3 linked regions of the Homo sapiens genome follow. The protein of the gene in region 1 interacts with the protein of each later gene in a pairwise test. Each region holds a gene or a part of one and is shown in the gene's direction. Other genes may lie near its edges.

Evidence for each region.
Region 2: the proteins of RARG (region 1) and ACY3 interact in a two-hybrid assay, tested with the Homo sapiens proteins (one large-scale study listed by BioGRID and IntAct).
Region 3: the proteins of RARG (region 1) and MTMR6 interact in a two-hybrid assay, tested with the Homo sapiens proteins (one large-scale study listed by BioGRID and IntAct).

The regions. Positions count from the first base shown.
Region 1 is NC_000012.12:53,212,599-53,215,325, reverse strand, and holds part of RARG (retinoic acid receptor gamma), read left to right. Parts: coding exon 1-33; intron 34-719; coding exon 720-880; intron 881-1,090; coding exon 1,091-1,267; intron 1,268-1,625; coding exon 1,626-1,830; intron 1,831-2,082; coding exon 2,083-2,241; intron 2,242-2,727.
Region 2 is NC_000011.10:67,642,047-67,645,041, reverse strand, and holds the end of ACY3 (N-acyl-aromatic-L-amino acid amidohydrolase (carboxylate-forming)), read left to right. Parts: intron 1-172; coding exon 173-282; intron 283-2,102; coding exon 2,103-2,318; 3' UTR 2,319-2,487; downstream 2,488-2,995. UniProt on the Homo sapiens protein: Plays an important role in deacetylating mercapturic acids in kidney proximal tubules. Also acts on N-acetyl-aromatic amino acids.
Region 3 is NC_000013.11:25,252,834-25,256,490, reverse strand, and holds part of MTMR6 (phosphatidylinositol-3,5-bisphosphate 3-phosphatase MTMR6), read left to right. Parts: intron 1-1,418; coding exon of another isoform or gene 1,419-1,469; exon of another isoform or gene 1,470-2,042; intron 2,043-2,056; coding exon 2,057-2,106; intron 2,107-2,526; coding exon 2,527-2,727; intron 2,728-3,657. UniProt on the Homo sapiens protein: Lipid phosphatase that specifically dephosphorylates the D-3 position of phosphatidylinositol 3-phosphate and phosphatidylinositol 3,5-bisphosphate, generating phosphatidylinositol and phosphatidylinositol 5-phosphate.

The DNA.
Region 1 (2,727 bases):
AGAAGTGCTTCGAAGTGGGCATGTCCAAGGAAGGTAGGCTGCCATCCTTGGCTTGGGCAGGAGCACTTCGGTCCTACCCTATGGCTGTGGCCCTCTTTCCTCTGGCCACTCCCACTTCCCTGACCTCTGAGACTTGGCCTGCCCTGGGGTGCTGCCTTCTCCCAGGCCAGTCTTATTTGATTAGCTCCATTCAACCAGGAGGCCCCACCATTTCCCATTCTCCCTCTCAGGGAGCTTGACTCTTCCTCTGAATGGGTGAATAAGTAGGGTCTCACATTCCCCCTGTTTCATGGGGGAAATGAAGCCAGTGGGCTTGCCAGTCCCTTTCCCTCCCCTGGACTGAGCCAGAGATGGATATGGGGTGGCTCCTCCTCTCCACCCCCCCCTCGCCCCCATTGTGCTGCCAAGGCTATAAGTGGATATCCTGCCGCCTGCATATCCTGCCCCCCCTCCCCCAGCTCCTGCAGGGTGACAGGAAGGACAGGATGGAGCCGAATGGCCTGGGGAAGGAGCAGGGGCTGCAGGCCCTGGGTGGGGCTGGGGAGAACCAGCCTGGGAATAGGAGCTATTATAGGTGATAGGGAAACTGAGGCAGTAATTACAGTGCCAGAGAATAGATATTCATGATAAGGACTGAGCATATTAAATTAGGGTGAGAGAGGACACCCAAAGGGAGGCTCTGAGGGTCCTGACCCTCTCCTTGCGCCTCCACCCACAAGCTGTGCGAAATGACCGGAACAAGAAGAAGAAAGAGGTGAAGGAAGAAGGGTCACCTGACAGCTATGAGCTGAGCCCTCAGTTAGAAGAGCTCATCACCAAGGTCAGCAAAGCCCATCAGGAGACTTTCCCCTCGCTCTGCCAGCTGGGCAAGTATACCACGGTGAGGAATGGGCAGAGCCCAGTGAGGGCAGGGCACTCTTCACTTTGGGGAATGGGGCTGGGTTGTGTTGGAGGCTATCATCGACTGGTGCTGAGGACAAGGAGGGCATCAGAATGCAGAGGAGAGAGCTTGGGATATTGGTAGAGAGAAGACAGCCCCCAGAGGTGGGCCTTAGCTTGCCTTCCAACCTTCTACCCCTCCCCTCTGCAGAACTCCAGTGCAGACCACCGCGTGCAGCTGGATCTGGGGCTGTGGGACAAGTTCAGTGAGCTGGCTACCAAGTGCATCATCAAGATCGTGGAGTTTGCCAAGCGGTTGCCTGGCTTTACAGGGCTCAGCATTGCTGACCAGATCACTCTGCTCAAAGCTGCCTGCCTAGATATCCTGGTAAGTTAGGCCCTGTGGGTCCTGCCACAGCCCGACCCACATATGGGACCCTCAACAATTCCTTGATCCATGCAAAGATTTCCTTACCCTGCACCCCCTGCCACACATGTGGGACTCCTCAGCTCTCTTTTCGTCTTAGCCTCTGCCCCTATGACCTGATCCTAGACTTTTGGATGCCCTGTCTCCTCCTGACTTCCCGGGACTACCCCTGCCAAGCCTCAGATCCTCCACCTCTGCCTTCTCCATGCCTGCTTCAGGTTGCACTCACTGGGGACCTAACCTCCTCACTTTCCACTCATTCCCTCTTTTCCCCATCCCCCAGAAACAGCACTAACCCTCCTCCACCCCCCACCTCCAGATGCTGCGTATCTGCACAAGGTACACCCCAGAGCAGGACACCATGACCTTCTCCGACGGGCTGACCCTGAACCGGACCCAGATGCACAATGCCGGCTTCGGGCCCCTCACAGACCTTGTCTTTGCCTTTGCTGGGCAGCTCCTGCCCCTGGAGATGGATGACACCGAGACAGGGCTGCTCAGCGCCATCTGCCTCATCTGCGGAGGTGCGGGGGCGCCCCCTGGCGTCTGCTCAGTGCTCAGTCTCCTTTCCCACCACTCCATGCGGAATCTGTCTGGGAGGGGGCGTGGAGGACCCAGTGGTCTCTTCTGCTGGTAATTCTTGCACCTGGCCCCATCCAGAGAGTTCTGAAACCCTGTACAGGCTTCCCAAAACGCCGGTTGGTGATCAGCCATCTGTCACTGTGTCTTCCCCATCTCTTCCTTCCCCTCTCACTCCAGTATACTTGTCCCCATAGACCGCATGGACCTGGAGGAGCCCGAAAAAGTGGACAAGCTGCAGGAGCCACTGCTGGAAGCCCTGAGGCTGTACGCCCGGCGCCGGCGGCCCAGCCAGCCCTACATGTTCCCAAGGATGCTAATGAAAATCACCGACCTCCGGGGCATCAGCACTAAGGGTGAGTCATGAGTGGGTGTCCCCTCTCTGTCTTCCCAGGGCTGTTGGTCTCCCAGGTCGGACAGGAGGACACACAGAGACAAGAACAGAGTAGTTGAGAACCAGGCAATCTACACTGGAATCCTAGCTCTGCCACATAGTAGTGGGAGACTTTGGGCAAATTGCTTCTAAACCAGTACTGTCCAGTAGAACTTTCTGCAATGATGGGAATACAATAGTCATTAGCCACATGTGGCTATTAAGCATCTGAAATGTGACTACTGCAACTGCAGAATTGAATTTTTAATTCAGCACAATTCCAAGTATGTGTGTGTGTGTGTGTGTGTGTGTGTGTGTGTGTGTGTGTGTATATATATATTTAGAGACAAAGTCTTGGGCAAATTGCTTTACTTTTTTAATCTTGTTTGTAAACTGGGCTATTCTTCACGTACCTTGTAACGCTGTCTTGAGGACTAAATTAGTTAATATACAATGTAAAGCCAGGCAC
Region 2 (2,995 bases), on another chromosome or scaffold:
AGACCCCAGGGGACTTTCGGGAAACAGGTCCGGGGAAGAGCAGGTCTGGCTCAGGGGTTGGGGAGCCAGGCTCACAGGCAGGCTGGGATCTAGCCCTGACGTACCCCCACGGCCCAGTCTGTCCCCTAGCCTGGAGGGAGGGATGGGCTCACACACCCAGCCTCCCACACAGGTACGGCCTTTCCTGCCTTTGAGATGGAAGCCTATAGACCCGTGGGCGTCGTGGACTTCCCCCGCACCGAGGCCGGGCACCTGGCAGGCACTGTGCATCCTCAGCTGCAGGTGTGTGTGTGTGTGTGTGTGTGTGTGGTGGGGGGTGATTTCTGGGGCCACAGCCTTGGGGAGGAGGATTGTCAAGGAAAACTGAGCCCCAGGGGGTGCAGCCAAGCCTCCCACGAGCTCACCAGCATCTCGGGTTGAGGAGCAGGATGGGAGGCTGGGCTCCGCCATCCCACTTCCCCTGGCCCTGCTGCCTTCCCTGGAACCCCACACTCAGGCCTAGCACAAGAGGCCACAGTGATCCCCATAGCTCCTGTGGAGGGCATGATGGAGACAACCCTACCCTGGCTGTAAAAGGCAGAGGGAGGGGACATGGAGCAGGCATGACTCAATTCACCTGCTTGGAGGTGCAAATACAAAACTCTCTTCTGATTTTCAATTGGTTCCTCGAGCATCCCCATGCATGTTGGCAGTATGTCTCTCTGCAGGCCTTCCCTTCCTGAATGTTCCAGGATTAGGCAATCCTGCTTCCACACCTTTCCCTTGGGTGCCTGAGAAGAACGTACTGGCTGCTGCTCTGCTTGCTGCCACAGGGGGTCATTGTTGAATAGGGTCTGGTGCAATCTTGTGGCCTTTTGTGCCCTGAAGTTTCATTTTGAGGAGTTACCTTCTTACAAATGGAGGCAGCACCATCCCGTCCATGTTTAGGGCTAGACAGTCTTAATCCAGCCGTGCCCAGCTACCTTGCAGACGTTCAGTCATAACAGTCAATTTGGGTGGCTCCTCCTACAATTTTAAAATTTATTTTATTTTTTATTATTATTTTTTGAGACAGAATCTTGCTTCATTGCCCAGGCTAGAGTGCAGTGGTGCGATCTCAACTCACTGTGACATCTGCCTCCTGGGTTCAAGCGATTCTCCTGACTCAGCCTCCCCAGTAGCTGGGATTATAGGCACTCACCACCACACCCAGCCAATTTTTGTCTTTTTAGTACAGACAGGGTTTCACCACGTTGGCCAGGCTGGTCTCGAACTCCTGACCTCAAGTGATCTGCCCACCTCAGCCTCCCAAAGTGCTGAGATTACAGGCCACTGAGATTATGAGCCACTGTGCCCAGGCTTAAAATTTATTTATTTATTTATTTGAGACAGAGTCTCGCTCTGTTGCCCAGGCTGGAGTGCAGTGGCATAATATTGGCTTACTGCAACCTCCGCCTCCTGAGTTCAAGCGATTCTCCTGCCTCAGCCTCCCGAATAGCTGGGATTACAGGCGCTCACCACCACACCTGGCTAATTTTTGTATTTTTAGTAGAGATGAAATTTCACCATGTTGGCCAGGCTGGTCTTGAACTCCTGACCTCATGATCCACCCGCCTTGGCCTCCCAAAGTGCTGGGATTACAGGCGTGAGCCACTGCGCCCAGCCAAAATTTATTTAATAAAGAATCATATTGTACTTACCGTGTGCCAGACACTGCTGTAAGCACTATTAACCTGTTTAGTCTAAACTTCAGAATGATAGGAGGAGATATTGTAATCCTTATTTTACAGACAAGAAAGCTGAGAAACAGAGGTTAAGTGACTTGCTCACAGTTACACAGCTAGCAAGAATTTGAACTCCAGCTTCAATACCTGTGCCCGTATCCATGAGGGTCCACTTCCACATGGGCACATGCCACCCCAAGGTGACCTGTGTCTTCATTTCTAGACACAGAGCAGACTGGTATCTCACCAGACCTGCTGTCATATGGATTAAGGAAGTGAAGCATGGGTGGGAAAAGCCATGAATGAGGGGCATCTTTTGGGTGTCAAGCTGGGGTCACCCCCCTCTGGGGCCAGGGCAGAGGTGGCCCCAGCAATCTTGGCCTTTGGCTCTCCTCCCAGGACCGAGACTTCCAGCCACTGCAGCCTGGTGCTCCCATCTTCCAGATGTTCAGTGGGGAGGACCTGCTCTATGAGGGAGAGTCCACGGTGTACCCCGTGTTCATTAACGAGGCTGCCTACTATGAGAAGGGCGTTGCCTTTGTCCAGACTGAGAAGTTCACATTCACCGTGCCTGCCATGCCCGCGCTGACCCCTGCCCCGAGCCCAGCTTCCTAACCCAAGACACACCTCCCCAACCTCAGTCTTCCCATCTGAACGATGGGTCCTGAGGCACAGCTCTGAGCACAGAGGTCCCTTCTGCCACCTACCATGCACCATGTTCCTTGCCAGGCCTCCCCAACCCCTGGCCTCAATTTCCCTTTCTATAAAATGGAAGATGTCCAGAGGTCCATGGTTTGTGTCCTCTGTCCTGCACGGCTCCTCTCTGGCTGGGGAAGTGGATGGAGGAAGGGAGGTTGACCACAGGATCTGGGGGAGGTCTGGCCAGTGCAGCCTTGGACCTGCAAGTGTCTTGGGGCCAGTGGTGGCTGCCTCTGTGCCCACAGCTGTCCATCCATGCCTGGGGGAGGATTCCAGAGTGTGGGAGGAGAACCTGAAGAAGGATTGCTCTGGATCCAGCGGAGGGGCTTCCAGAGGAGGCTACAACCCAGAGGGGGACCCCCCAACCCTCCTATAGTCCTGGGGCCAGACAGTGAGTGTGGGGAGCGCAGAGACAGGCCCATGTCTGTGCACACATGTGTGTTTGTCCGTGCATGGCGCCTGCCCTGGATGCTCTTTGGCGTGCGTGTCTGTGCGTTTCCCACACACACGTGTTTCCAAGAGCCTCAGTTCCTTGGGCGTTCTAAGGGGATCTCTATGTGGCCAGATGTGCATTTTTAAGTGTGTAATGAGCC
Region 3 (3,657 bases), on another chromosome or scaffold:
TTATTAAATACAGTGCCATCTTAAAGCAAAGGAAGATTTAAAATCACCAGTCCCTTTTCAGCACCGCTATTTTTTGCTGCTAACATACCGACTCTGGGACAGGCCAAGCGGGAGTGCTGCTAATAAGAAAATAATGCTCAGCTTACCTTGAGAGTGTACGATAAGGAATATTTTCTTTGCCATGTTTGGCTTTAATTATTTGTTAGACATCCAAATGAAATCATGTAATAAATGGGGATGATGTGAGAGCTTCCCAGGCAATAGGAACAGTGTAAATCAAAGCATAACCTCTTTGGGTGACTGCAGGTAATGTGTGATGGATGGAGTTCAGAGTGAGTATTAGAATAGGGGGCTTGGAGGCAGAGGAATAGAGTGGGGTCAGGGCCTGAGAAAGAGAAGGCTGGAATGGGGCTTTCCCCTCTTTGGATAATGGGAGCTATTAAAGAGTTTTAAACAAGCAAACAGTAACTTGATTAGATGTGCTTTTTAAAAAGGTGGCTTGGTATCTTGAAGGCCAAAGGGAGTGGGAATGGAGGCTAGGAGGCGAGTGTAGACACTATTATGATAACTTATGAGACAAAAGTTTTTAATTTTACCAAACTAAAATAGTAACACACAAGTGAAGGGGGAGGTGATGGGTTCCAGGGATGTTTAGAGAGTAGAGTCAGTGGCTGGGCGCAGTGGCTCACGCCTGTAATCCCAGCACTTTGGGAGGCCAAGGCGGGTGGATCATGAGGTCAGGAATTCGAGACCAGCCTGGCCAATATGGTGAAACCCTGTCTCTGCTAAAAATACAAAAATTAGCCGGGCATGGTGATGTGTACCTATAATCCCAGCTACTCAGGAGGCTGAGGCAGAAGAATTACTTGAACCCAGGAGGCGGAGGTTGCAGTGAGCCAAGATTGCGCCACTGCACTCCAGCCTGGGCAACAGAGTGAGACCCTGTCTCAAAAAAAAAAGAAAGTAGAGTCAGGAAGAATTGATCATGGATTGGATGTGGGATAGAAGAGAGGAGTCTTCCTCTGGGATGATTTCCAAGTTTCTGAATTAGGTGCCAGGATGGATGGTGCTGCTCTCTGGCTCTTCACTGAGATAAGCCAAAGAATACATTTAGTGAGAAAGATATTGAGTTATGCTTTAAACATGGTTTTGTAGAAGAATGGCAGAGAGACCAGAATAAAATCTGTGGCTCCAGCCACAAGGTCACACAAAGTGGTGAAGCTGGGATTGGAGCCTGTGCCTGAGCTCCAGCGACTACATCCTCAGCCACATCAGTGTATAGCCTTCTGCGGAAAGCAGAGGCTTGAGACAAAATCAGAGAAGCTAAAACCAGCAGTTTTGACACTATGAAAATAATGTGCTTGGTGACTGTATAGTTAAGTGATAAAGTGTACTAAATACTACAAATATGTGTTTAGATTAGACTGAAAAAGTTAGAAATCTGTTTTTACAGTGGAGTGGGTAAGTAGAGAAGCTGTGGCAAGGAAAACATAAAGTCAGTCCATTCAAGAGGATAGATGTTAACACTTGGATCTGAACATGAACTCAAGTAAGATGATTTGATTAAAATAATTGGTCTTTTTATCATTAGTTTTTTTTTCTTAAAAAAAGTAGTATATAAATAATATAAAAAATGTACAAGTAAGCCAAAAGTTTTAAAATATCCACCTCAGTCTACCACCTAGAGTTATCCTTTGTTAGCAGTTTTGGTTTACATTTTTCTAGCCTTTTTCCTATGATATATCATCTTCATACATACAAAAACTTAAATGTAATACTGCTTTATAACATGTACTTTTCACTTAAAATGTAATAAATTCAACGGAAATAATTTAAGTCACGAAACTACTCTATTTCTTTTTATGCATTTTTATTCTTCTTTAACCCCACCTCGAATCAAGGTTTTGGCATTCTTTTGCCTGTGGTTTTTTGTGCTGTTTTGTTTATAAGTTAAAAGTGTACAGTAAATACTGTTTTTAAACTAATAAGATTTAATCCAGCCTAAACAAAATAATTGAAAGTAGTCAGAAAGTGAATTTTACTTTTTCTCATTAAGGTTTTAATAGAAAAGGATTGGATCTCTTTTGGACATAAATTTTCAGAGAGGTGAGTCACAGTTACACAGTCATATATTTTATAAAATTAGTAAACCAAGTTTAGAATGCCAAAATGTTTCTGTTCCTTATGAACTCACATGCGTGATGGGAGGTAAGAGTGTCATGGTTTTTACTGTATTTTACGTAAAGACATTTAATTTTTTTCTGTAATTTCTTTCAATTCTAGTACGCTTGTTAATTTTCATGACTATTTATTACCTTCCTTTTGGGCTGCATTTTATTTAGAGATGGTAACAGATCCTTTAAAGCTGTGGTTTAAAAACTCATAAATGGTTTCAATAAAAATTCTAGTTTTGCATGCTAATGTAACAGTGCTTTAGGAATATTTTTGTATGTTTAAGATTAACAATACCTGAACAATGGACCTTTCAGAGGTGTTTTTAAAAGCTTATACTTTCTGTGGGGTTAGGTGTGGCCAGTTGGATGGTGACCCAAAGGAAGTCTCACCAGTGTTTACTCAGTTCTTGGAATGTGTGTGGCATTTGACCGAACAGTTTCCACAAGCCTTTGAATTCAGTGAAGCATTTCTTCTTCAGATCCATGAGCATATTCATTCATGCCAGTTTGGAAACTTCCTTGGAAATTGTCAGAAGGAAAGAGAAGAGCTCAAGTAAGATGATTCAATTAAAAGAGTCTCCTTTTCCCCCTACTTAGCCGAGGTCTAACAAAAATCATGTTTGAAACTTAATAAAATATCTTGACAATTTGAAAGTTTATTGTAAAGATTTTATTTTTTGTATTTCTAAAGCTGAGTACCCTTCTAATATTCCCCCACCTTTCAGCTAATAGTAAAAGCACATTATAAAATGTGTTTTGAAGTGTAGCATACATACAGAAAAGTACATAGAGCGTTAAGTGTGAAGCTCAGTAAATCTTACCAAACTCACACACCTATGTAACCAGCACCCAGAATATGAAATGTTGTCAACACCCTGGAAAGTCTCCTCATGCTTCTTTTCGGTCTGCATTTATATATTTTAGAACAGAGAAATCCTTATGCTGTTTAATTTCCCAGAATGTATCAGTCGCTAGTTTTAAAGTGTAAAATATTTTAAACTGTTGGTTTGTTTTAAGATAGGATGGAGCCTTATAGCTCTCCCCACATTTCTAAACAGACAGTTCTTTGGGGAAAATAAATCTAGCTATGTTGGCTGCAGCGTGTCCGTCCTTGAGTAGGGTCTCAGAAAAGCCCTGAGACACTACTTGACCCTAGTTCATGTTATTTCCTGACCAGTCTTCGGGGATAGGGGTTTTTGCCTAAATTTTGCTGTAAGGAAGATCTCTGGAGTAGGTCTTAGAGGTCCTATGTATATTGTTTTAGGTTGGGCTTCTGAGTTTGGATTTCTTTATTGCCTCTTACAGTAGGCAATAAAGAGCACTTAACAGACTTTTGAACATCCAAGGGACATATTAAGGAAGCTAAATCTGGTAGTATTTGAAGATAGCCACATGCTCACACTCCCAACAGAGTAAACAGCAGAACTGAGAGCATGTGGAAAATTCTAAAAATGCGTAAAGGGAATAAAAAGTGAATAGAGAA